Regions from separate parts of the Homo sapiens genome. Here regions 1 and 3 are each reported to be linked to region 2. Evidence: microRNA targets listed by miRTarBase, many of them from high-throughput screens and not tested one by one. Region 2 holds a microRNA gene; each other region holds the end of a gene's coding sequence.

Region 1 (10,746 bases), not on the chromosome of region 2:
CTGAATCTTCTAACTTGCAGCTAGACAAACTCGTCCCAAAGAATGCTTGAGAAAAGTGGAATTCCACAGACTGGTTTATCTTGGATAATGGCACAGTAAACAGAACAGTGGAAACCAGGCCAGGAGGAAGGGACCGATGCTTCTTCAGGACAGGTCCTTGCTGCATTTGCTCTATCTCATGCCCAGGAGGATGTGCCTACTCCTGGGAGCTCAATTCACATTTCAGAAATGCTGCTGTCCATCGACTCACAGCATACTGGGCAATGCCACTTGCAGACATGAAGGAACGGGGGCTTCAGGCAACCTGGAATGACTATATGTAATTCTATGCCCTCTTGCTGGGGATACAGTGTTCTGTGGTGAGAACAAACCTTTCATCAGCTTAGGAAGTGTTGTGGCTCAGTCTTTTAGCATTTAGGGGTCAAGGGTGGGAAATGGTTCATCCCAGAAGCAGCTCTTGGTTTTCAGTAGATGTTTTATTTTCTTTCTAATGTTTTCCAGCTGAGTCGATTTCAGACCGATGGAGGTCAAATGATTTACACTGATGCCCAGTGAAACAGAACAGCTGGGACTTGAACTCGGGGACTTGACTGGTGGGCAGCCCCCAGCCTAGTCAGTCAAATGCTCTCCTCCCAGGTTTTTACTGCCTCTCTGGTTGCACCTCAAAGGCAGCCTGCTGTGTCTGGCAGGGCCCATCTCCTGGGCCGTGTCTGCTCCTGACTGGAATAAGAGGCCTGTGACAGGTCAAGTCTGAATGTTCTGGCAGAGCGGCACAGGGCAGACTGCTCCACCCCTGCTCAAAGCACACAGCGTCTGGTGAAAGCCAGATTGAAGATAGCTAAATGCGCATGCCAAGATTCCAAAAGGAAAAACTTAGCTCTCAACTTTCCTTTGCATGGTGATTTTTCATCCTCTCCTTTTTCTTTTTGTAAAAAGGGAATCCCCATGTTTACAAGTTGAAATCCAAAATGCACAAGTGGTCAGTTCACAATTCTGTGACCCATGAACATCTGTGGGCCTGGGTGTTCCTTGGGAATCTGCAGTGCTTGGAGCAGTGAGCCAAGCCTGCCCTGGCAGAAGGGAATTCTCCAGTGAGTCAAATAGTCCTGCGAGTGCCCGGGGTCTGCTTCTCCTCTGGTTCTGCTTTCCTGGGACATGTCTGTACTTGACTTCCCCTAGTTTTATGAACTGCATTTTGACTATATTTTTGGAGGTGGGTCCATCTGAAACTCGTTACAGGAAGTAGGACAAGAATCTTCATTTTGCCTTTAAGAGAAATAAAACTCTGTAATCTGAGATGGGCAAACATGCTCCAAGTCTGTTTACCAAGGAACAAGAACCTCTCTGTGTCTTTTGAGCAGACAGAAAAATTAAAAATAAAATATTTATTTGGGATTTGTCTCTGAGGACTTCAGTGACTGAAAACCAATAGGGCCTCCCCTCCCTCTGTGGAAAGGCGAGTTCCAAAGCCCCGGCTCCCAGGAGAGCCCTATGGTGAGGCTGCTCCAGTACAGCAGGTGGCAGTGGGTGTGGCTGAAAGTGCCTCATCACTTTCATTCTGGATCCTAGGTCTGTAGATGGGCTTTGGCTATATCATCTTTTTAAAGTTTTAATTTGGTAGCTGCTTCAAAAGTTAAGGGAACCCTCAATGGGCAAAGTTAGCATGTGACATATTTGTGTCTCCTCTTTGGACCTTGGTTTTCCTTGTCTGTAAAATGAGGGAATGGACCAGATCACTGCTCCAGAGCCCCAATGCAACTATAGGAATCTGCACTTTGAGGCTTGCTTCTCTCCTAGTAGGAATTCAGTTCCTCTGCCCTAACTTTTCTGCTATAGTCTGGGTGTTATGGGCTGAATTGTGTGTCCCCCACAAATTCATATATGAAAGTCTTAACCAAGTATCTCAGAATGTGAGCATTTTTGGAAATAGGATCTGTATTAGTCTGTTTTCACACTGCTAATATTAAGACATACCCAAGACTGGATAATTAATAAAGGAAAGAGGTTTGATTGATTCACTGTTCAGCATGGTTGGAGAGGCCTCAGGAAACTTACAATAATGGCAGAAGGGGAAGCAAACATGTCCTTCTTCACATGGTGGCAGCAGCAAGAAGAAGCGCCCAGCAAAAGGGGAAAAGCCCCTTATAAAACCATCAGATGTCATGAGAACTCACTATCACGAGAACAATAGCATGGGGGTAACCACCCCCATGATTCAATTATCCATCACCGGGTCCCTTTCACATGTGGGGATTATGGGAACTACAATTCAATATGAGATTTGGGTGGGGACACAGCCAAACCATATTAGGGTCTTAAACGAAGTCATTAAGTTAAAATGAGGTCATTAGAGTGAGCCCTAATCCAATATGATTGCGGTCCTTAGAAGAAGAGATCAAGACACAGACAGGCACGGGGGAAGGACACGGGAGGATGCAGGGATAAGGTGCCCTCTGCAAGCCCAGGAGAGAGGCCTCAGGAGGAACCAACCCTGCCAGCACTTCAATCTCGGACTTCCAGCCTCCAGAACTATGGGACAATACACTTCTGTTGTTTAAGGCAACCAGTCCGCAGCACTTTGTTACGGTAGGCCTAGCCGACTAACACCACATGATATCACAATGAATGTGCTGGGCTGTGAAAGAAGTTCTGTGTGTTTTTCTTAACAGACTTGGATTTTTGGTTTTAGCCCAAAAAAGACTTTTCTGTAGCAGGATATTTAAAACATTATGTTTGTTTATTTTTTACAGATTTCTTTATCATCTGATGTGAAATAAGCCGTGTTAGTAAAATAACTCCTCTTTATCTTTACTTGAAGGGGGTTTCACAATTTTGACCCAGAGGGCTATTTTTCTTAATAGCTATGGATTGTCATCCTGCTTTTTTTTTGTTTCTTTTTTTTTTTTTTTGACGGAGTCTCGCTCTGTCACCCAGGCTGGAGTACAGTGGCATGATCTCGGCTCACTGCAACCTCTGCCTTCCAGGTTCAAGTGATTCTCCTGCCTCAGCCTACTGAGTGACTGGGACTGCAGGCGCATGCCACCACACCCAGCTAATTTTTTGTATTTTTAGTAGAGACGGGGTTTCACTGTGTTAGCCAGGACTGTCTCAATCTCTGGACCTCGTGATCCGCACGCCTCGGCCTCCCAAAGTGCTGGGATTACAGGCATAAGCCACCGCGCTCGGCTGTCATCCTGCCTTTTAAGAAATACTGTCATTATCTATAAAATTCATTAAAGGCCAAATAGCTCATTGGATAAACCCGCAGGTGATGGCACATGTATAAAGAACTTCAGACCACACAAGCAACCCCAGATATGGCACGGTCCAGTTTTTCTTGAGTATTTTTGGCTCTAAAGTTGATTGAGTCAAACATCATTTGATTGAGTTACAGAAGGACAAACAAAATGATGAACAAAGGTCACCACTTATCACCTGCTGTTTAAGATTCTCATATTCTTACTTGAAATAAAGCATACCATTACCAAAGTGGATTTTTCTTTCCTTTCGTATCAGCATTCTGATTCTTTTATATAACAGTCACATGTAATTGGAATGTAGCATCAGACACACAGGGAGCATAGTTTGTTTCTCTTTGTAAGCTCCATTTGACCACAGCAGTGAAATTTCCCAAGAACGGTGTTTCCAGATCAAGACTACTCACTTGAGAGCTTAGAGTGGTCCAGGTTTTGAAGTGCTGCATGTCTGAGAAACAGATCATCGTAGACACTGAGAATTGGGGCACATCCTTCCTTTCCTATCTGACGGTAGACATGCCCCGTAGATGCTGGATAACAGAGACAGATGATTCAGATGTAGCACCCCGACATGAAACCAACCGTGGAAATACTGATAAAATCACCTGTTTGCTTTTTAAAATATGCAACAACATGAGTAAATGACTAGTTCATTTTATCAGCCCCCTTTTTTTTGCTGTCATATAATTACACGAATGAAAATTGATACACTTTTTAAAATACAGCTTTTCAAAATCCCATCTTGAGGAAAAAAGCTTGGCCAATTAAGAAGGCTGAGGGGAGGAACTGCAGGCACTTTTATTTCCAGCTGTCAACAGGATGGAAGAAATATGTCAACTTATTTATATTTATTTATTTATATGGGTGATGAATAAGTTAAGGAATGCTTCATCTCAAACACAGATTGCTTTTATTTTAGCTAAGTTAATGTTTCAGTTCCATATATATTTTTGAATTTCCATCAACGTCAAACACCATTTTTTTCTTTCTTCTTAAAAAAAAAAAAAGATTTACAAGCACTTTTACGGCACTCAAGAAAGTAGGCTGAAGGTTCATAATAATAATTTTCCTTTTAAAAAACATCCATCAGACCAAAATAAAATCATTTTAATTAACTCCTTCCTGAGTAACTAAAACCTTGGAATGTGCTGAAAGGTTATAATAAATAAGACAGTCAAAGATCAACTAGCTTAAAAGGTATTTTTTAAATTAAACTATGTAAAATGTACAATATGTTTCATGAAGTACAAACTGTTGGGCCCAGGGCCAAAAAAAATGTTGTCATGTTTGCCAAATAAACTGAAGTACCTTGACTTTTAGGACCTAGAGGGTGTTGGCTGGGACAAAATAACATTAAGGCCCTGTAAGTAAATCCGTCAGCATCTTTTTTTGTGAAGTTATAATGATCACTGCTGAAAAGAAATGCCTTTGAACACACAGGTAAAAGTACCCAGATAAACTTGCAGTAAGAGGATGAATGTTTTTGAACGACCAATTGTCCCAATGTTCTGACAAGAGCAGAGAAAACACAGCCAACTCAACTTTATTTTCAGATTGTGAGATTGCACAGTGTGTAAACTTATCATCATTCTTTATATGGAATTTCATAGAAATGACTCACAGGGTACCAGGCAGCAGTTCTTGTACTGGTTTTGAATATGATTGATAGCTGTTCTCCAGGTTGCTTCTGAAAGTATGCCTAATGGTAGGGCCCTGGTCTCTCTGAACAGGACAAAGGATATTTCCTCCTCTAAGAACATTTCCCTTCATCACTTCTCTGCCCCCGTCCTCTGAGGCAGAAAGAAGGCCCATGAGCGGCCAAGTGCTGGACTCTGTGCCTCTGTGGTCCCCGCCTTCCCTGGACTCCTGTGGGCTGCAGCCTTCTTAACACACATCTCATGATAAAGTAGCTTCAGTGCTCACTCGGCAGGTTCCAAATGACTTGCTTTATATCTTGGCTACAGTCCAATTTTAGTGAAGGCAGAAAAAATTCTAGAGAGACTTTGTGGTTTATGAAAAGTATAAAATGTGTAGCTTGTGTAAAGTCAGAGTCTTATTTACTATTAACTACTCCCAACTCACACATTTGCTAGGGCTGGCTCTAGGGGACAAATATGAAATAGACAAAATTTGTGGCAGTGTCCTTCCTGCTGCCACCACTGAACCTCGGCTTCTTAGCTAGCTGTTTATCGTCTTCCCAGGAGAATGTGTATTTTCAGCATTTTTTTTAAGGTGAAAATATTTCAGAACTCAAAGCAACAGATTTCTAATGACTGAACCAAGGCATCATTGATAGGTGGCAGGGGAGGGGCAGTGGGAGGTGGAAAGAAGACATACCTTAGGACAGTGAGACTGCCCAACATGTACTCACATCACATTGGAGGCAGCCACTTACTTACAAAGCTGGCCAAGCAGTCTCTGTCCCAGAAGCTCTTGCTGCTTCTTTTTGATGTCTCAAGTAAGAGTTCTCAGGAGCACACAGGTCCCATAAGAAATGGGACTCTACCTGCACAGAACTCAGGTAGTTCTCGGGTAGCTCTTCCACCTGCACAGAACTCAGGACCCCTTTTTACTGAAAACAGGTACCTCTTAGGGAACTAGAAGTTACAATAGTACATAGTACCAGGTCCTATAGGACCCAACTTGGCCAGGGGTGTGTTTGATAGATTACACACCATCTGTGGTCAGGCTCAGAACTTCTGCTGTAGGAGTCAAATGCCTGAGCTAAATTGGTTCCTAGAACTTCCATTAAAGCAGTGTTGGGAGAAGATGTTTCATATTGGGTGCAAAAGACACAGCCATGCCCTTTCCCTGATGCCACATGACCTTCAGATTTATCTGTCTTGTCTACATTCTTCCTTACACAGCAAACAAATTATTTTCCCTGCTAGAGTACTTTGATATCTGTCAGCACGGTGCTTTGAAATGGAATGTCTCAATGGAGCTGGCCATGCACTTTGACCTTGAAAGGTACTCCAGGCTGTGGATTGGTTGGGGATGCGGCACAAGCTGACTTGCTCTTTCAGAGATAATTACACTGCTCTTGGTGAAAGTGCCCCCTGAGAAGGACCAGAGGCAGAACTCTACCCATGCGGGTAGAAACCACTTACCCATGGAGATCCTCCTCCTTTAAAAAAAAAAAATTAATTGAGACAGAGTCTCACTCTGTCACCCAGGCTGGAGTGCAGTGGTGTGATCACAGCTCACTGCAACCTCAAACTCCTGGGCTCAAGTGATCCTCCCACCTCAGCCTCGGATTATAGGCTCAAGCCATGGCACCTGGCTCCATCCTCCTTTTCGATGTCCTAATCTGTCTTACCTTCTCTTAGATCCTTCCAGAGGAGATACCCTGGTCTCTGAAGTGGTTTTGTATTTCCACTGAAATATACAAGTCTGGATGTCTCCTACCATTGAGGTAATATTTTTATAAGTCATTTTACAAATGATAAGTTATTAGGCTAGGGGCTATATTTCTCCCCCTTTTCCCATGATATGGGGTGGGGGAAAGCTGTTTTATGACAAGATGCCTTGGGATGGAGCCATCTAGTGTACCCGGGAAAGACCCAAAGAGCCAAGAGAAAACACAGAATAAAATTAAACAAATAAAACCCGCAAAACCGGGCATCTCCCAATGACCCCAACATGTGGGAATGTTTTGTTCTTTTTAATGCACCCAAGCATTAATTTAGTCCCTTAAGGATTTTACTTCCCCAAACAAAGAACTTTCTGGAAAAGGGAGATAAAGCCATAGAGGCAACACAGTCACATCACCTCTTATAAATATCTTCCAGCCACTTTTCATCATCCTGTTCTTCATCGTCGATTGGCTCCTCGGTTTCCAGTGGAGTTGGGATAAAGAAGTGTGGCCTCAGGGGGGGCTTGCTGACGTGAGACTTAAGTCCAAACTTGCGCTTCAGCAGGTGGAACTGCTCTTTGACGTAGTGGTAAAACTCGTACTCGTATCTCATCCGCTGGTAGAGGATCTGCACAGCCTCAGGAGAGGGGACAGTCTTCTTCACCGTCACAGTCATGTTTCCAAGCTTCCTGTGCTCTGGAAGAGAACCGGGGTCGCACATGAGCCATCATTTGCAGTAGCTTAGAAGGGATCCCGGCGAGGACCCACATTACCTGTACAACTCTGGTAGCACCTAAGGAAGCAACTGCATATCCAAGTATTAGAAGAGAAGAAGGGTTCCTGACAATATTTGGAAACACTTACCAACTCTAGGTGTTAATGTCAACATGAGTTGACGAAGCACAAGCTATCAAATTTCCTTTCATCAGATGTGAACCATGCGATTGGACCAAATTCAATTGTTAACTCTGAGTTCTACATTCTTTTGAACAGCAGAATCTATCCATTTTCCCTCTTTTATTTCTTGATACACCAGAAAAGGGCTTTACCCTCAGAAGGAGGCATGGAAGAGCTGTCTAACCACTTTCTAATAATCTTGTTTTGTAAGTTTTAAAATATTGACATAAAGTTTAATTTGATACAAAATCCATTTCCATTTTACTATTTCAACAATGCATTTGTCCAGAAAAGGAAAGGAAGGGCTGCCAGATTTCTTAAGTATAATTTACAAATTTTTAAAATTTATTTTTATTTTTTGTAGAGACAGGTTCTCACCATGTACCCAGACTGGTCTCGGCATCAAGAGATCCTTCTGCCTTGGCATCCCAAAGTGCTGGGATTATGGCACGAGCCACTGCACCCAGTCTAAATATAATTTTAACCCTTGTAAATTTTAAATTTTTTATTGTGGTAAAATATATACAACTAAAATATGCTTAATTTTATACTAATGCTTAATAACAAAATATATTTTATATTCATTGCTGAATAGCATGAAAATGTTATATATAGAGTGTACAATTTTAACTATTTTTAAGTGTACACTTCAGTGGCATTAATTATATTTACAGTGTTGTGCAACCATCACCACTGTTTTAAAAATCCTTTCATGAGTCTATACAAAAACTTGATATCCATTAAACAATAACTCCCAATTCCTTTCCTTTCCTTACCCCACCCTACTTACCCCATCGATTAGATAGAACCTCTAATCCATGTTCTATCTTTATGAATTTGCCTATTCTCAGTACTTCATGTAGGTGGAATCATACAATATTTGTCCTTTTTTTGTCTAGCTTATTTCACTAAGCATGTTTTCAAGGTTCTTCCATGTTGTAGTGTGTATCAGAGCTTCATTCCTTTTTTTTTTTTTTTGAGATGGAGTTTTGCTCTTGTTGTCCAGGCTGGAGTGCAATGGCGCAATCTTGGCTCACTACAACCTCTACCTCCCGGGTTCAAGTGATTCTCCTGCCTCAGCCTCCTGAGTAGCTGAGATTACAGGCATGCACCACCATGCCTGGCTAATTTTGTATTTTTAGTAGAGATGGGGTTTCTCCATGTTGGTCAGGCTGGTCTCGAATTCCCGACCTCAGGTGATCCACCTGCCTCGGCCTCCCAAAGTGCTGGTATTACAGGTGTGAGCCACCATGCCTGGCCCAGAACTTCATTCCTTTTAAGGTTGAATAACATTCCATTGTATAGATAGAACGCAATTTGTTTATCCTTTCATCCTTGGAGAGACACTTGGGTTGTTTCCATCTTTTGCTTATTATAATGAACATTTGCATTCTAGTATCTGAGTCCCTGTTTCCACTTATTTTGGGTATATGCCTAGGAGCAGAATTGCTGGGTCATGCGGTAATTCTAAGTTTAATGTTTTGAAGAACTGCCAAATTATTTTCCACAGTGTTTGCACCATTTTACATTCCTACCAGCAATGTGTGAAGGTTCCAATTTCTTCGAATTCTCTCCTACGATTGTTATTTTCCTCCCTTTTTAAAATTGTAGCCATCCCAGTAAGTGTGGAGTGGTATCTCACTGTGGTTTTGATTTGCATTTCCCTAATGACTCCTGTAGTGATGCTGATGCTAATGGTTTCCCTAATTTCTAATGACCTTTTCATGTGCTTTTTGACAAGCATGTGTCCAACAAATGCTGTTTGTTTGTATATCTTCTTTAGAGAAATGTCTATTCAAGTCCTTTGCCCATTTTTGAAGTGGGGTTTTTTTTTGTTTGCTTTTGTTTGTTTTTATTGTTGAGTTGAAGGAGTTATTTACATATTTTAGATAATCTGCACATATATCAGGTATATAATTTACAAATATTTTCTTCCATTCCACAGGCTGTCTTTTCACTCTGTTGATAGTGTTCTTTGATGCATAAAAGTTTTTAATTTTAATGAAGACTATTTTATCCATTTTTCTCATATTGCCTGACTTTTGGTGTCACATTAAAAAAAATTGCCAAATCCAAGGTTGACATATAGAAGTTTTTAATTGTAATGGAGACCATTTTATCTGTTTTCTTCTTATTGCCTGTCTTTTGGTGTCATATTAAAGAAGCCATTGCCAAATCCAAGGTCATGAAGATTTGCCCTCACATTTTCTTTTATAATCTTGCTTTTGACTAAAATTTTTGTCAACAAATTTGAATAGGTATATAATTTACTAAATACAGTTCCAAATGGCTATTTCCAAAATCAGACTCATCTGAAAGGACATAGACTTCCCAATTTTTAGGATATTTGAGGTACCTTCTGAAGCCTTCAGTAGCAATTCTAAAGAAGGAATTTGAAAAATTCTCTATGTAGAGGCTAAGAAGGGTAGTGGGGGATTGGGGACAGGTGGGGATGGTTCATAGGTACAAAAAAAATTGAAAAATGAATAAGACCTATTATTTGATAGCACAACAGGGTGACTATAGCCAATAATAATTTAATTGTACATTTAAAAATAACTAAAAGAGCCGGGTATGGTGGCTCATGCCTGTAATCCCAGCACTTTGGGAGGACGAGGCAGGTGGATCACGAGGCCAAGAGATCGAGACCATCCAGGCCAACATGGTGAAACCCTGTCTCTACTAAAAATACACAAATTAGCTGGGCGTGGTGGCATGCACCTGTAGTCCCAGCTACTCGGGAGCCTGAGGCAGGAGAATTGCTTGAACCCGGGAGGCAGAGGTTGCAGTGAGCTGAGATTGCGCCACTGCACTCCAGCCTGGCGACAGAGCGAGACTCTGTCTAAAATTAATAATAATAATAATAAAATAACTAAAAGAGCATAACTGGATTGTTTGTAATGCAAAGGATAAATGCTTGAGGGGATGGATACCCCATTCTCCATGATGAGATTATTATGCATTGCATGCCTGTATCAAAACATCTCATGTACCCCATTAGGTATTAATTAAAATAAAAAATAAATAAATTCTCTATGTGGCCAACAGCCTCATTGAATAAGGGTATTACTTTTCAAACTGACTCTTTTGAAAGTCCTTTGCCAGGTTGGGTCCTTTGCACAGGGGAGCCTAGATCCTTGTAAATAGATAACATGGTCTTCATTGAAATTAAAAACATAACACACATTGAACACTCTAGAATTTCTGTTAAATAACTTGGCATAGACTCTTCTGAAA
Region 2 (5,000 bases):
TGCTAGTTGCACTCCTCTCTGTTGCATTCAGAAGCACGCCCCCCAAAGAAATGGAAATGGTGCCATCTTGTGGACAATGTGGAGAAGTGGCATAAACCATGGTTCTTAACGTGAGCAATTTAAAGTTGATCCAATGTAGTACCTGTTCTCCTTGAAAGACCAAACCCAAAGGTCTTTAGTGTCTCCTGTAATCAGTGTAAAAGGAAACAAATTTAAATGGTTTTATAAACGTGTTTCATAAAGAGCCTTCATCTGCTTTAAATCTCTGTCACCATTTACCATGCTTCTCTCTAGGCTCAATAGTTCATCTTCCTTTGACCTGTACGCAGAGATTCTAGTTCCAAATCCACCACCATTTTAATAGATTTTTCTAGATCTTATATAAATTTTGCAACTAGGCACTGTGGCTCATGCCTGTAATCCCGGCACTTTGGGATGCTGAGGCAGGAGGATCACTTGAGGCCAAGACTTCAAGACCAGCCTGGACAACACAGGGAGACCTTGTCTTTATAAAAAAACTGCAAAAATTAGCTGGGCATGATGACATGTGCCTGTAGTCCCAGCTACTTGGGAGCCTGAGGCAGGAGGATTGCTTGAGCCCAGGCGTTCAAGGCTGCAGTGAGCTATGATTGCACAACTGCACTCCAGCCTGGAGGACAGAGCCAGACCCTGCCTCTTAAAAAAAAAAATTCAGTATTCAAGTGGTAACATCCTATATTGAATACATAATTGCATTTTCAGAACTCGATTACTAATGTCATTTCTAGTAGGAGAAAACTAATTGCATTTAAGCCCTTACATTTCTTAAATACTTTAATGTTGATTTTTTCCCCCAAACACTGCTGCAGTTTTGTGTCGTGCACAGCTTATGTATTATCACGACTCCTAGATATTTTACTGTCTAATACAGACAAGTAGTCTTTGGATCAGTAAACAGAAGTGATTTGAAAAGCTATAGTTAAGTAACTTTTTATTTATTTTTTTGAGACAGAGTCTCACTTTGTTGCCCAGGTTGGAGTGCAGTGGTGCAATCTCGGCTCACTGCAAACTCCAGCTCCCGGGTTCAAGTGATTCTCATGTCTCAGCCTCCTGAGTAGCTGGGATTACAGGCAGCACCACCACGCTGGGCTAATTTTTGTATTTTTAATAGAGACGGGGTTTCACCATGTTGGCCAGGCTGGTCTTGAACTTGTGACCTTAGGGGATCAGCCAACCTTGGCCTCCCAAAGTGCTGGCATTACAGGCATAAGCCACTGCGCCCAGCCTACAGTTAAGTAACTTTTAAAATTCATTTGTACTGTAGAACATATTTTTATCCAAGCATTTAATTTGGAAAACCTAAATGTAAGTATTCTGAAAGTTTTAAAGTTTTTGTTTAACTTTTATGTTTTTGACTAGATTCAAGCAAATATTGATTTTATTTCTTATAGTCTTGAAGTAATACATTTTGTGTATAAGTTTTCTTTAATGTGACTATTAAGATTAGAGTTCTGCCACTATGTTTCATGTTACAAATTTAGCCTCAGTGACTGCCTGGGCCACGAGAATCGGCAGTGACCTGAATCAGGTAGGCAGTGTATTGTTAGCTGGCTGCTTGGGTCAAGTCAGCAGCCACAACTACCCTGCCACTTGCTTCTGGATAAATTCTTCTTGTCAATGAAGTGCTCTGGATACCTGTGTGTGATGAGCTGGCAGTGTATTGTTAGCTGGTTGAATATGTGAATGGCATCGGCTAACATGCAACTGCTGTCTTATTGCATATACAATGAACATCAGAGTGTAACTGAATCTGTAATTAGTGTGTGTTTATGTGTACTTTCTGCTATGAAGCAAGCCACTATTTACCATAATATATTATTGCCATTAGCTTATAATACAGTAATACTTACAATGCACAGTTTTATAATGGTAAGGAAAGTATTACAATTACTTAAATTTTTTCCTTTTAAGAAAAATTTACTTATGCCTGCTTTTCCATAACTAAAAATTTTTAAGAAATATTTTTGGAGTCTTTGGAGTCTTTCGGAGTAGACAGTGTTTAAGTATTTATGAAATTACATGTTTTTAACTATAAGGTTTAGAATGTAATAACAATGTGGAATGGACCTACAATGTGTCCCCAGATTTTCAGTGAAGTCTTTAGGATTCTTTCTGCATTATTAGTTTCTTTCTTTTTTTTTTTTGAGACGGAGTCTCGCTTTGTCGCCCAGGCTGGAGTACAGTGGCGCGATCTCGGCTCACTGCAAGCTCCGCCTCCCGGGTTCACGCCATTCTCCTGCCTCAGCCTCTGGAGTAGCTGGGACTACAGGCGCCTGCTACCATGCCCGGCTAATTTTTTTGTATTTTTAGTAGAGACGGGGTTTCACCGTGTTAGCTGGGATGGTCTCGATCTCCTGACCTCGTGATCCACCCGCCTCGGCCTCCCAAAGTGCTGGGATTACAGGCGTGAGCCACTGCGCCCGGCCTCTGCATCATTAGTTTCTAAATACAGCATTAGAATTGGTTTCTATAGCCATGACTGTGTGTGTACCAACTGAAGGGAAAGTTGAGGTAATTTTCCAGATGAGTCAGTCAACTAAAACATTTTTCACTTGAAATATCAAGAATATTGGGGATTTTTTTTGGGTGGGGGATGGTTTACATTTTTTTGGAAGATCTACCTCAATCCTTTCACTTCATTTTCTGTAAAATCACAGGTTCATGAAATATTTGGAAGACAGCATGAGATCTAACAACTTGTGAAGTGGGAAGAACTGACCATACAATATGACCTTAAATATATTCTCATTACCTTGGAGGCATTTTGACCCACGAAGTAGCATAGATATGTGCTGGCTTCCAGACATGCAGTATTCTTGTGCGGACATTTGCAGCCAGTCAGTGGAACTGACTTTGGTGGTGCCATCAGTTAGTTAAGCCATAGATGAGATATAAGAAATATTTCGCATTCTCTACTGTACTGGATTATAAGTTATTGGTAAAATAATTTTTATGCTTTCCTTATTTAAACATATTTCTAGAACATGGGTTAAATAGATATCTATAATTTGATTCTTACGCATTTTACTACTTTCAAATCACATCCTCTTTTTGATGTTGCCCAGTGTTATTCACTTTCAGGAGATTTATGTTTAAGTATATCTTCCATGTAAATATTATTTTCATCTTGTCTTTTTTTAAGGTTAAATTTCAACATGTTATTTTCTATAAAGAATCACTGACCTAGTGATAAAAATAAAACCTACTAAATTTAGAAGCTTTGGCTTTTGTGTGTTAGTTTTTTTAAATTAAAGAGCAAGATATAAAATGCCAACTTTATTTTATTTTAGATCCAGGGGGTACATGTGCAGGTTTGTTACATAAATATAATAGGCGATGCTGGGGTTTGGGCTTCTAGTGAACCTATCACCCAAATAGTGAACATTGTACCCAATAGATAGTTTTTCAGTCCTTGTATTCCTTCCTTCTACCCCTTCTGGAGTCCCCAGTGTCTACTGTTTCCATCTTCATGTCCATGTGTACCCATTGTTTAGCTCCCACTTAGAAGTGAGGAACATGCCGTAATTGATTTTCTGTTTCTGAAAATGCCAACTTAAATTTTTTTAAGTTTTCTTTTTTAGAACTTTTGATTCTGTAGGGAAACCAACTTTATATTCAATAAACAGAAGACATTTAAAGTTGTGGTTTAGTCTCATATTATCGAGATGATGAGAAAAGAGGGAAGGAATGGAATGAAATAAAAATATGTTAAAGAAATAAAAAATATGTTAAAGAGATGAATGGGTTAGGAGGAAAGTGAAGATACAAATTAAAAGAGAAAATGTTTCCATAGGTGGGAGAGGGAAAGAAAGGGATACACACTGGGATGTCAAGGGTCAAGCAGAGGGAAAAGGGATGGTAAAAAGAGGAGGGAGGTTCTGCTGATGGCAAAGTATTTTCTCCCAGGTGTTTTCTCTTGGGGCAGTCTCTTGGCTGTTCACTGGTGCTGGGAATGTCACTACTTCCCATCGCTGCCCTCTGAACCTGTCACTATTATAGTGATAGCTTCCTAATTTCTCTCTCTCTGCTGCTTTTTATTCCCCTGCACTGCTCTGCAAGAGACAGCCTTAACAGTTCAGCTGGATGAGGGGAAGGGAAGAGTGGGAAGGAGTGTGGTGGATTAGTTTCTAGGCCTAACAATTATTAGAATTTTATTTGATGGGAAAGATAAAATCAAGCAGAGGACTAAATATGGATAGAGTGTCCTCATATCAGCTCCACCCAAACATGTCATTTTTCTTTCAAAGGAACACCACAAATCAATGTGGTGCAATCATGGCTCACTACAGCCTCTACCTCCTGGGCTTAAGCAATCCTCTCACCTCAGCCTCCTGAGTAGCTGGAACCACAGGTGTGTGCTACCGCACCTGGCTAATTTAAAAATTTTTTTTGTAGAGATGGGGTCTCGCTCTGTTGCCCAGCCTGGAGTTCAGTGGAGCCATGTCGGCTCACTGCAGCCTTGACCTCTTTGGGCTCAAGCAATCCTTCCACCTCAGCCTCCTATGTAGCTGGGACCTGAGGCATGTGCCACTACACCCAGCTAATTTTTTGATTTTTTTTGTGGAGACAGGGTTTTGCCATGTTGCCCCAGGCTGGTCTCTAACTCCTGGGCTCAAGTGATCCTCCCACCTCAGCTGCTTAAAGTGCTGATATTACAGGCCTGAGCCATCATGCCCATCACCAATTATCACATTTTTAGAAATTTTGCATCCTAGTTACTAAACCAGTGGTAGATTGAAATTGACCATGAGGGAGCATGAGCATTTACATTGAGCTGGCAAATGCTGTATGTCAGGATTCCTCCTCCAGAGTCTGCTATTAAACATGTACCAGCCACCATTATATATATGCTAGATACACTGCAGTTATTAAGAATTATATATATGTACACGTATATATACTATTGATACAGTGTAATTGTTAAACATTTAAAAAAATGAAATACAACTTTCAGGGCACAT
Region 3 (9,148 bases), not on the chromosome of region 2:
GAGCCACCACACCCAGCCTGTTGTTTGTTTTTTCTTTTCTTTTCTTTTTTTTTTTTTTAACCATTAGTGCAAATGTCAACATAGTAAAAGGATAAATAATAAAATAATATTGTTATGAAAGTAGTTTTGACCCCATGGACCCCCTAGAGTCCTGGAGATCCCCATGGGTCAGTGGACCTTCACTTTGAGAACCTCTAGTATAAACCTTTATCATTCAGAAGTGGAATTTTTGGAATTGGCATCACCTGGGAGCTTTCAAGAACTGTAGAATCTCCTGCTCACCCCAGACCTACCGAATCAAATTATAGTTTAACAAGACCCCCAGGGGATTTCTGTGCACATTAAATCTTGAGAAGCACTGGTCTAAACCAGTGTTTCTCACCGCTGGCTGCTATGTATTAGCATCACTTGGAAACATTTTTCAAACTACCAATTTAGGCCCCACCTCACAGATTTCGACTTAATTTGGCCAGGGCGGGGATCAAGTATAGTGGTACTAAAAAGCACCTTTCTTTTTAGATGACTCTAACGTGGTCACCTGAACCTTCTGAGGTTGACTCTAACGTAGGGCCAGAGATGCAAACCACCTATATGGATGATGAAACCTTTTCTTTACTCCTTAGGGAACTAAGATTCTGTGAATACACCGTTCCCCTGGGTCTCAAACTAGCTCTAGAGGAGGCCCTCATGATACCACCTCAGCAGAGGTGAGAGAGTAAGGAACCATTGGTAGAGCCAGTACTGTGGAGAAATTAAAATTTAACTGGTGAGGGACAGCTTCAGGGTTAAGAGAGTTGGACCTCCTACCTTGAAACCTGGCTCCCCACCTGCCACTGTTCCATAGTGCTTGGAAAATATGAATATTTTATGTGCCTCAGTTGCCCCTTCTGTAAAATTGGGATTATACTAATGGGTTGTTATGCATATGGAAATTAATATGTGAAACCTGTACATGAAATGCTTTATCAGTCTCAGCTCTTATTCCTAATGTGTTAAAAATGTCTTTGAATTCTGTATGTCTGCTTATAAAAACACATAAGTTAACAAAATTCATTATCCTCAGGCACCCAACGTACAGAATATTTAAGCATACATTTGAAGCAACATGTGAATGTATACATATGCTGTGATTTATTAAGCATGTTACGGGAACTTTAAAACACCTCATTCAGCAGAAAGGAGGCAGAGGATTATAATCCTCATTTGACAGATGGGACACTGAGGCCCAAGTCCTCATGTTCCTTCAGTCTAGAAAGTGAAGAGAACTTGCACTGTGTGACAAGGGCCAGGCGAAAGACACAGGAGAGGAAGATAGATTCCTGTAGACCTTGTTTGTCAGGGAAGATCCCTTGGGAAAGGTCAGTGGTTGAATTGGACCTTGAGGGACAGAGAAGTTTTTTTTTTTTTAAGCAAGAATAGGCTTTTGATTGATCAGCAGGAGCAGGTGGAATCTAGGTGGGCAAAAGAATACAGAGATACTGGGGGAGGGGGGATTGTTTTGGGAAGTGATGTGTATAGGATAATAATAAAAAGAGTAGCTCACATGTAATGAATGCATACAGTGCCAGCTGGTATACTGGGTAAGTGCTTTGTATACCTTGTGTTAATTAATCCTCAGCAGTCCAGTCATGTAGGGCCTTTTTTTTTTTTTTAAAAATAGGAGCATTTAAAGAAAACTAAGTGACTTGTCCATAGTCAGACAGCTAGTAGGGGCAAAGTTAGAATTTGAACCCATGTCTGTGAGACTCTAAAGCTATCTGGCCTAACTGGCCACTTATTGACAGATGGGAAACATAGGCTAGGGAGTGACAGGCCGTGGGCCTGGACAGGTGGGGTGCGGCAGGTTGCAGAGGGCCTCCCTTGAGGCTGGCCAGTTGGGTTTTATCACGAGTTGATTCTAATCATAGTCACTTATAGGGCTTTGCTTTCTCTCCAAAGGCTGTACATCCTTTTGAAATCCCAGAGATCTTCAGTCTCCCTGTGGATTAAGGAGATGTGCAGTATTTAAAGTGGCTTCAGGAAGGCATGGAAGAGGACTGAGTGGGGAAAGCTTTTTGTGCATGCTGCTGGCTACCTCCAGCGGCTGCCTCCAGCCTCCATCAGCTGCACTCTGGGGAAGAGGAGGCTGCCTTCTACCTCCCAGCATCTCTGGATTTCATGTTCCTGTCAGCACAGAGGAGCTAAATGGCCTGTAGAGGCTGAAGGTCTGAGGCTCCTAAAGCTGGAAGAAAAGGCTGGGCCAGTCAGGCCAAGCAAGAACACAGTGTAACTTGTCTCTGAGTGCTTCATGGTTAAGGGGGCTAAGCAGGCACAAGGGCATGAGGATGGTTATATGTACAGACTGAGGGGAAGAAGCAGTGAAGATGAGACTTGCCATCTTCTTGAGTCAGTAGGCCTGCCTCAGGTGCCTAGGATGTAATTGCTCTGCTGCTTCTCATGGGGAGGAGTGGCCCTCATGACCTTGTTTACCTGGAAGAGTGTGGGATGAATGCCTCCTCCTATGGGGACTCGCAAGTGCTTTAGCAAAAGGATAAATTGCTAATTGTGGCATTTCGTGGATCAGCAGGATTATTTCTCCTTGCTAAAGAGGATTTTGTTGGTCCTGAATTCTGAGGAGGTGGGACTAGGAATGGGCTCCATGAGCCTGTGTATGACTCAGGGAATATTAGGACTTTGGCACAGCCTCATGGGTTGGGAGTAAGTCTTGGCTCTTCCCTAGCCTGAATGACAGACATCAGATCATTCTGGTGCTTTGTCCATGAAGATGTAGATTCTGAGCCCACCCAACTAATCTTTTCACTTGAGCACAGAAACAGCCCCGGGAATCGGACAGACCCGTGTCTTTCAGGTTTGCTTCACAGAGCCCCAGGGGTTGACAATAGGTGCCTTGGAGACTGCCTGCATGGGGATTTTTAAAAAGCTTTCTTTGTTAAAGGTTTGTAAACCACTCCTCTGAGCCTGTTTTCATTTTATAGATTATTCAGGGAACTGAACTGCACAGAGATCCAGAAAGTGGGTAGTGCAGGCTGTAGTGCTGATAACTACTGTACTACTTGGATCTTTGTGCTCCCAAATACCAAATGGAAGAGGATCTCTGAGAGTCCTTTGCAAAGATCTTGTAGGGACTTTAGGCTGGGGCCTTCGGAAAATTCCAGAGGATTCCAATGGAGATTTTGAGGGACTGACTCAGAAGAACAAAGAGAATGATAATGGTGATGTCCCTGCTTTTTACAACAGATCATGTTCTGATATATATGCAAATCTGTGTAAAGTAAACCCTACCTAAAATGTACTGGGGACCCAAGATGGACTGCCTGTATTGCTTCCAGGATAAAGTCCAATTTCTAGCTCTGGTTTTTATAACCTTGCTTCAGCTCACCTTTTCCGTCATCATCCCCTCCATCTCCTCTCCCACGCTGGGAAATGGATGGCTGCACTATACTGTGTGATGTTATTGCTATGTTCATGCCATCCCCTCTGCCTGGAATGCCCTTCTGCATGAATGCCTGTGAAATGTTGTTGCTCCTTTGTATGGCCTGGCTTCCGTGGTTGGCAGGAATCTCTTCTTTCGTGGTATTCCTGTCATCTTTGTGCATCACAGTCAGCTTTGTATTCCTAGCTTGTAAGCTACTTGAGGATAGGGGCATGTCTGAATCTATTTAATCTCTTGCACCTGTTTGGCAAATTGATGTTTTAAGTATTTAAATAACTAAAGCTCTCTCTACAGTACATACTCACTTTTGATTTATGAATTGGCAAAATTCAACTTTTTTCCTTGAATATTCTTAAAGTGAGATGAATTCCAAAGGAGAGTGTTCTGTGTGTGGCCTTCATTGAGTGGTTTTCTGTTACCAGAAAGCTCTTGGTGGCCTTCCTCTTCCCTGGTGTCAAGGTTGACTGTTATAGGAAATGGGAGGGGAGAGGGCCGTTTCTGCCACGCATTGTCCTAGGTTCTTAACATTATTTAATCCTTATAATGCAATGTTATCCTCATTTTACAGATGAAACCTGAGACCAAAGAACATGTAACACATAAAGTACATTGCAGAGTTAGGATGTGAACCCAACTCTGATTCTAAACCTAATGCTCTCACTCTTTCATTCAGAGGTTCAGTCAGTTCTTTGTAGGCTGTAGATCCAGAGAAGCTGCCGTAGCCAACAATGAAGTTGTTAGTTTTTAAAACATCTATGTGGTAAGTTGGTCTGGCACTTAAAAATGTATTGTTTCCCAGGCACGGTGGTTCACACCTGTAATCCCAGCATTTTGGGAGGCCGAGGCAGGCGGATCATTAGGTCAAAAGATTGAGACCATCCTGACCAACATGGTGAAACCCCGTCTCTACTAAAAGTACAAAAATTAGCTGGGTGTGGTGGCGCATGCCTCTAGTCCCAGCTACCTGGGAGGCTGAGGCAGGAGAATTGCTTGAACCCAGGAGGCAGAGGTTGCAGTGAGCCAAGATCATGCTACTGCACTACAGCCTGGCAACAAAGCGAGACTCTGTCTAAAATATATATATATATATATATTGTTTACTACTCACCACAGATCTGCAGGAGTTCACTGATCTCTAGGATCTGCCTTAACTCCAACTTACATGTTTTGGTCACTATTACAAACTGTCATCCCAGAATGATGCTGCAGAGGCTAGGGCTAGGACACAGACCAGTGTTTCCATGTGGGAATTCCCTCCCAGTATTTCTTAGGAAATGTATGTTTTTTGAATCCATAATCCCTAGAAAAATCAGTTGAGGAAATGAGAAGTATTGTAATTATTCTGTGAATAGTAACACTTACCATTATGGAGACATCACTAGTTTGAAAGAATCCAACTTCATCAAATATTAACGTACCGAGTTGAAGGCTACAAGAACTGAGACAGGAGCATAGCAGAGAGAAACGGTCACCATCTCATTAGCCCTATTTTTGGTTGTTGTGATGCCATTACATCTGTATATCTGGCCATATCAGCTGCTAATGGTGAGTTCTTGCAAACAAAATGATTTGATAAACAACCTACCATACTTTATACAAATCTTATGGTGTTCCGAGAAATAAACTTTGGAAGCAAAATAAGTTAACAGTCTGGACACGATTGATTCTATATTCTGTTTACCTTGCTCTAGGCTATTCAAATGTTATATTTATTTGAACACTATCCAATATATGTTCCCTGGCATCTTCCTGTCTTTTAAATATTCTCTGTACGCTACAGTTCTTTGTAAGTAAAAATAAGCTTAATATGTCTACTTAGCAAACAAAGTTTTTCCAGATACCTATAATAATGAGGAAAACAGTATAAAGAATGAAGTATTTGAAGAATAACTTATAATTTGGGGGATTTCTGAGAATTCTACTTCTTTGTCCCTAATTTCCGAAGGTAAATGTTTGTTGTGAATTTGGAAACACTAGACTACAGAAAAGCAGGCACTCTCTAGCCTGGGAGGCCCACTGATCTTAGGAGGGTCCATATAGCTGCTTATTGCAGACCTTGCACTAGAACCCAGGTCTTTTGACACCTGGTGCCACTTTTCATTCCATTCCATTAATTATAGCCCAGAGAATAACCACCACCACCCCCAAGTCCCATTGTGGTTTTATTCTGAGGACAGATAAAAGGTTGAAGCTGATGGAGTGGTAGAAAGAAGTGGGAGCCATAGTGAATGAAGACGTTTAAGGGCAGATATTAACACCACTGAGTCCTTCATTCGGGATTACAGGTTACACTTTACCCCTCAAACTGTAGAATTCAGTGGAATCCATGGCCTTTACCTCTCTATAGATGACCTTTTTCCTACCCCTTTACATCTCCTGTTTTTTTCCTCTCCAAACTGCCCTAAATTTAGAGGTTTATTTTGAAGTAATAATCAGTCACACACAGCAAAGTCTCTCCCAACACATGGGGAGCAGATGTGCTGGGATTATCACTGCCATTTGAAGGGTGATAAAACTGAAGGAAAGGAATCTGACTAAAGTGGCACAGGTTAGAACTAGCAGAGTCAGGTCTAGAACTCATTTCATATTTCTAGAATTGTGTGATGATGTACTGATAAAGTTTTACGATGCCCGGATCTAAGTATTATAATAGTGTCAATTTCTAAGTTCATTTTCCATCTTTTACCTCTCAGTGGCACTCAACTAATGTTTTTTGCCCCCAAAGGTCGGGTACTCACAAAAGATTCCATATTCTCTCTGGCAGTAAGGGTGAGAATGTTGCTGGCAGTGGTAGGAGTGGCAAGGTGGCCAGAGGACAGGGTCCTGCCATTCCTCCTCAGCCTCCAGTAAACCAAGTGCAAAAGCCAGAGCCAATTCCTTCTGCCACCCAGCAGCTAATTCACTATAGGGAAGACAAGTGATTGTTCAAAGGGAGGTTTTAAATCATAAATCAGACACATTAATTATAACTTTAACAAATGTTATTAAAAGCAGCAATTAAAAACCATGAATCTTTTTGAAGGTGCAGAGGGTTATAAGGTCAGTTGGCAGTAATGCAGCTATTATCTGGTATGAATGAAATGCTGGGGTGGGGAGTCAGGGTGACCTCATTAGGCCTTGTGCTATCTTCCCAGGTGGTGCAGACACCCCCTCCCTCCTTTTCCCTCTCCAGGCCCACAGCCTCCCCAGAGCCCAGGTAGGGAAGGTCCAGATGTACTATAACAGGATTGCTCATCCCAGGCTATCTCAGAAGTCTGGAAAGCAGGCCTAGAAGGTTGCTGGGCTCTCTGAAGCCAGGCAGGAAGCTACAAATTGGATCCCAGTTCCCACAGCACCCCTGGGCTAGGGGTTGGCTTCTCAGCTCCCCTTCCACCTGGCCCTAGTTGGCCCCTGTGGCAGCAGCTGTGGGGCTGAAAAGGGGGAAGAACTGGGTCCAACGCCAGCTCGTCTATGCCTGGGCTGTGCCAGGGAAGCAGAGGAAAGTGGGTGGGCTGTGCACAGGAGGTGAGGTCCCCCTTAAAAGGCACTGTGGGAGCTGAGGTCTAAGATGGGGGGGCATCTAAACTATCTCAGGGACCCCCTGAACGCTCACAGGTAGAGAGGGGTCAGGCCTAGCAATGGAAAAACAGCTCCTGCAGGCCTGCTGCCCCGCCAGTGCCTCTTGCTGTACTACCACCTTCGCCTTCCTGCTGGCGGCCTGCAAAACCAGCCAAGCTGGAGGCCACAGCAGCAGTTGGCAAGGCTGGTCCCCATCTGGTGCCCACCCTCCACGTCAAGGCACTTTTGTCCATTTTCCAATCAAGTGAGTCAGTTTCTAATATCTCTGGAAGCAGCAAAACATCAGGGGTCCTCTTCCCCCTCCCAATTTTGGTTTCCCTCCAGATGAGGCAGAATTTGAATGTTGGTTCCAAAAATTCTCTTTCAAACCCCCACTGGCAAGGGCTTCCCTTTGAGGGAACCAAATGATGCAGGCTCTTTAAAAATTTCAACCTATCCCAAAAAGTGATTGTCCATTTCAGGGCAGGGCAAGGGATATGAAAGAGGGTGAGTCCCCTGTGCTTCCCTATGGGACCAATGCTGGTTGATGGGCTGAAAGAAGGAGCGGCCACTGAGCTTTCACATTTAGTTGCAGCACCTGGGCCCTGGAAGTGGGCCAAGGGAAAGCCAAGGGAGGAGCCAGCAGGCCCAGAGGGACGGTGTGGCTCTGTGTGTGTACACTTGGGCATGTGGTGGTGTGGCCGTGTGGGGTTGTCTGCATGCCTAGAGCTGAAAGTACAACACATGTGGATGGAAGCTTGTGCGAGTGGGTGTGTATTGTCTGCTGTGTGGTGTCTGGTGGGTCTGGGGATGGGAGGCACCAGAAACAGGTTTAGCAAGACATGGTTTCCCTCCCACCACTACCACCCCCCACCCCCGTCCCCCAGGTTTGGAAGGATGCCTCCATTCCAGCAAGGCCAGGCCCAGCTCTATGGCGACTGAGGGGGTGAGGCCAGAGAACAGAAGACTTCTGGGACCTCCAAAGCTGACATTGGCAGCCTTCACTCTCAGCCTTAATACCTGGGCCCTGGTGCTGGTGCCTTCTGAGGCAGACCCAGCCCTTTACTCTTCAGATCCTCACAGGCTTTCACAGGGGCTCTCTCCCATCCCACCACCTCTCTCCGAGGGTAGTGGGGAGTGGCAGGAAAGTGGAAGAGAAAAGCACTGAGCAGCATCCTCTTATCCACCTTCTCCCATGCTCTCTCAAAGGTGCCTGTTATGTAGTCCCTGGGAGGACTGGCTGCCCCACGGGTCACGTGTGAAGGGGATCCAGTGGAGGGACAGCTGTGCACACACAGGATGTGCGAACACACCCAGAAAGGGGCGAGAGAGGTCAAGGCACACAACTGGGGACAAAGACCTGGGCCTCAGGAGGAAGGGTCCCAGCGCAGGGGACACAAGGTCAGAGAACAGATAAACAGAGTTTGAGGGGGTGTGGAGTGTGTAGAGACACAGGCACAGGGGTAACGAGCCTGAGGAGGCCCTGGAACAGAGCTGGTACAGCAGAGAGACGCAGGCCTTGGCCTGGCAGGCAGGCAGGCAGGGCATTCTGCCAGGCACTTGCAGCTCTGTCCTGCTTCCTTCTCCCACCCCAGCCTGGAGAAAGCTGGGGAGCCTATGGCTTCTGCTGCTCCTCCTTTGGTTTTCAGGACCCCTGGCACCCCCGGGGGCTAGTCAGTAAGGGGTGGTCCCTTCCCACTCCACCAGGTACTGAACCTTGCCCTCAGGTGTGACCCTCCGAGCCAACACCTGGTACTTCTCCCCACAGGCCAACCGCCCAGCTGCACCAAAGTAGTTGGTGATAGATGACTTGAGGTGGGACAGGGATGAGTCATCTTCACTGATGCTCTCAAATGTGTGGCTGTCAATGCCTTCGTCTGGCCGCTCGGGGACTGAAGCCCCCTCTGCACTGCTGTCCGAGGGGCAGCGTCCATCCAGCTCAGCTGCCCACCGCTTTGCCCGCAGGGGCATGTATGCCTTGGCTGCCAGCTTCCTCTTTCGGCTGCCCACTGTCCATCTGTATCAGAAGTGGGAGAGGAAGATGATGAGAATGAGGTAGAACAATCACAGTAAATTCCTCTCCCTGAGTCCTCCCCTCAGTACCAGGAAAGTGGAAGAGAAAAGCGCTGAACAGCATTCTCTTATCCATCTTCTCCCATGCTCTCTCAAAGGTGCCTG

Evidence for each region. The annotated mature microRNA hsa-miR-449a reads UGGCAGUGUAUUGUUAGCUGGU and lies in region 2 at 1,690-1,711, shown strand. An mRNA with a match to its seed (bases 2 to 7 or 8) in the 3' UTR can be bound and repressed. Matches are read on the target gene's strand: a 7mer-m8 pairs with bases 2 to 8, a 7mer-A1 pairs with bases 2 to 7 and ends in A, and an 8mer does both.
Region 1: the mRNA of UST is a reported target of hsa-miR-449a. Seed matches in the 3' UTR shown: 7mer-m8 at 5,567-5,573 and 8mer at 5,391-5,398.
Region 3: miRTarBase lists PHF19 as a target of hsa-miR-449a. Seed matches in the 3' UTR shown: 7mer-A1 at 6,479-6,485.

Annotation. Positions count from the first base shown.
Region 1 is chr6:149,070,395-149,081,140 of GRCh38, reverse strand. UST (uronyl 2-sulfotransferase) reads right to left here. Exons shown (of 8, transcript NM_005715.3): 8 at 4,151-7,308. The coding sequence ends at 7,025. Among named protein-coding and RNA genes, the nearest start is that of UST-AS2, 43 kb to the right of the region's middle. RefSeq lists enhancers at 1,049-1,168, 6,797-7,996.
Region 2 is chr5:55,167,297-55,172,296 of GRCh38, reverse strand. MIR449A (microRNA 449a) reads left to right here and starts at 1,675; the gene lies at 1,675-1,765. All of the region lies in intron 2 of CDC20B (cell division cycle 20B), which reads left to right. It overlaps GPX8 (glutathione peroxidase 8 (putative)), which reads right to left. Exons shown (of 3, transcript NM_001008397.4): 3 at 5,000. MIR449B (microRNA 449b) reads left to right here and starts at 1,555; the gene lies at 1,555-1,651. It also overlaps MIR449C.
Region 3 is chr9:120,849,300-120,858,447 of GRCh38, forward strand. It overlaps PHF19 (PHD finger protein 19), which reads right to left. Exons shown (of 15, transcript NM_015651.3): 15 at 6,352-8,987. The coding sequence ends at 8,645. It also overlaps the pseudogene CUTALP. Among named protein-coding and RNA genes, the nearest start is that of PSMD5, 11 kb to the left of the region's middle. RefSeq lists enhancers at 6,436-6,937, 6,938-7,437.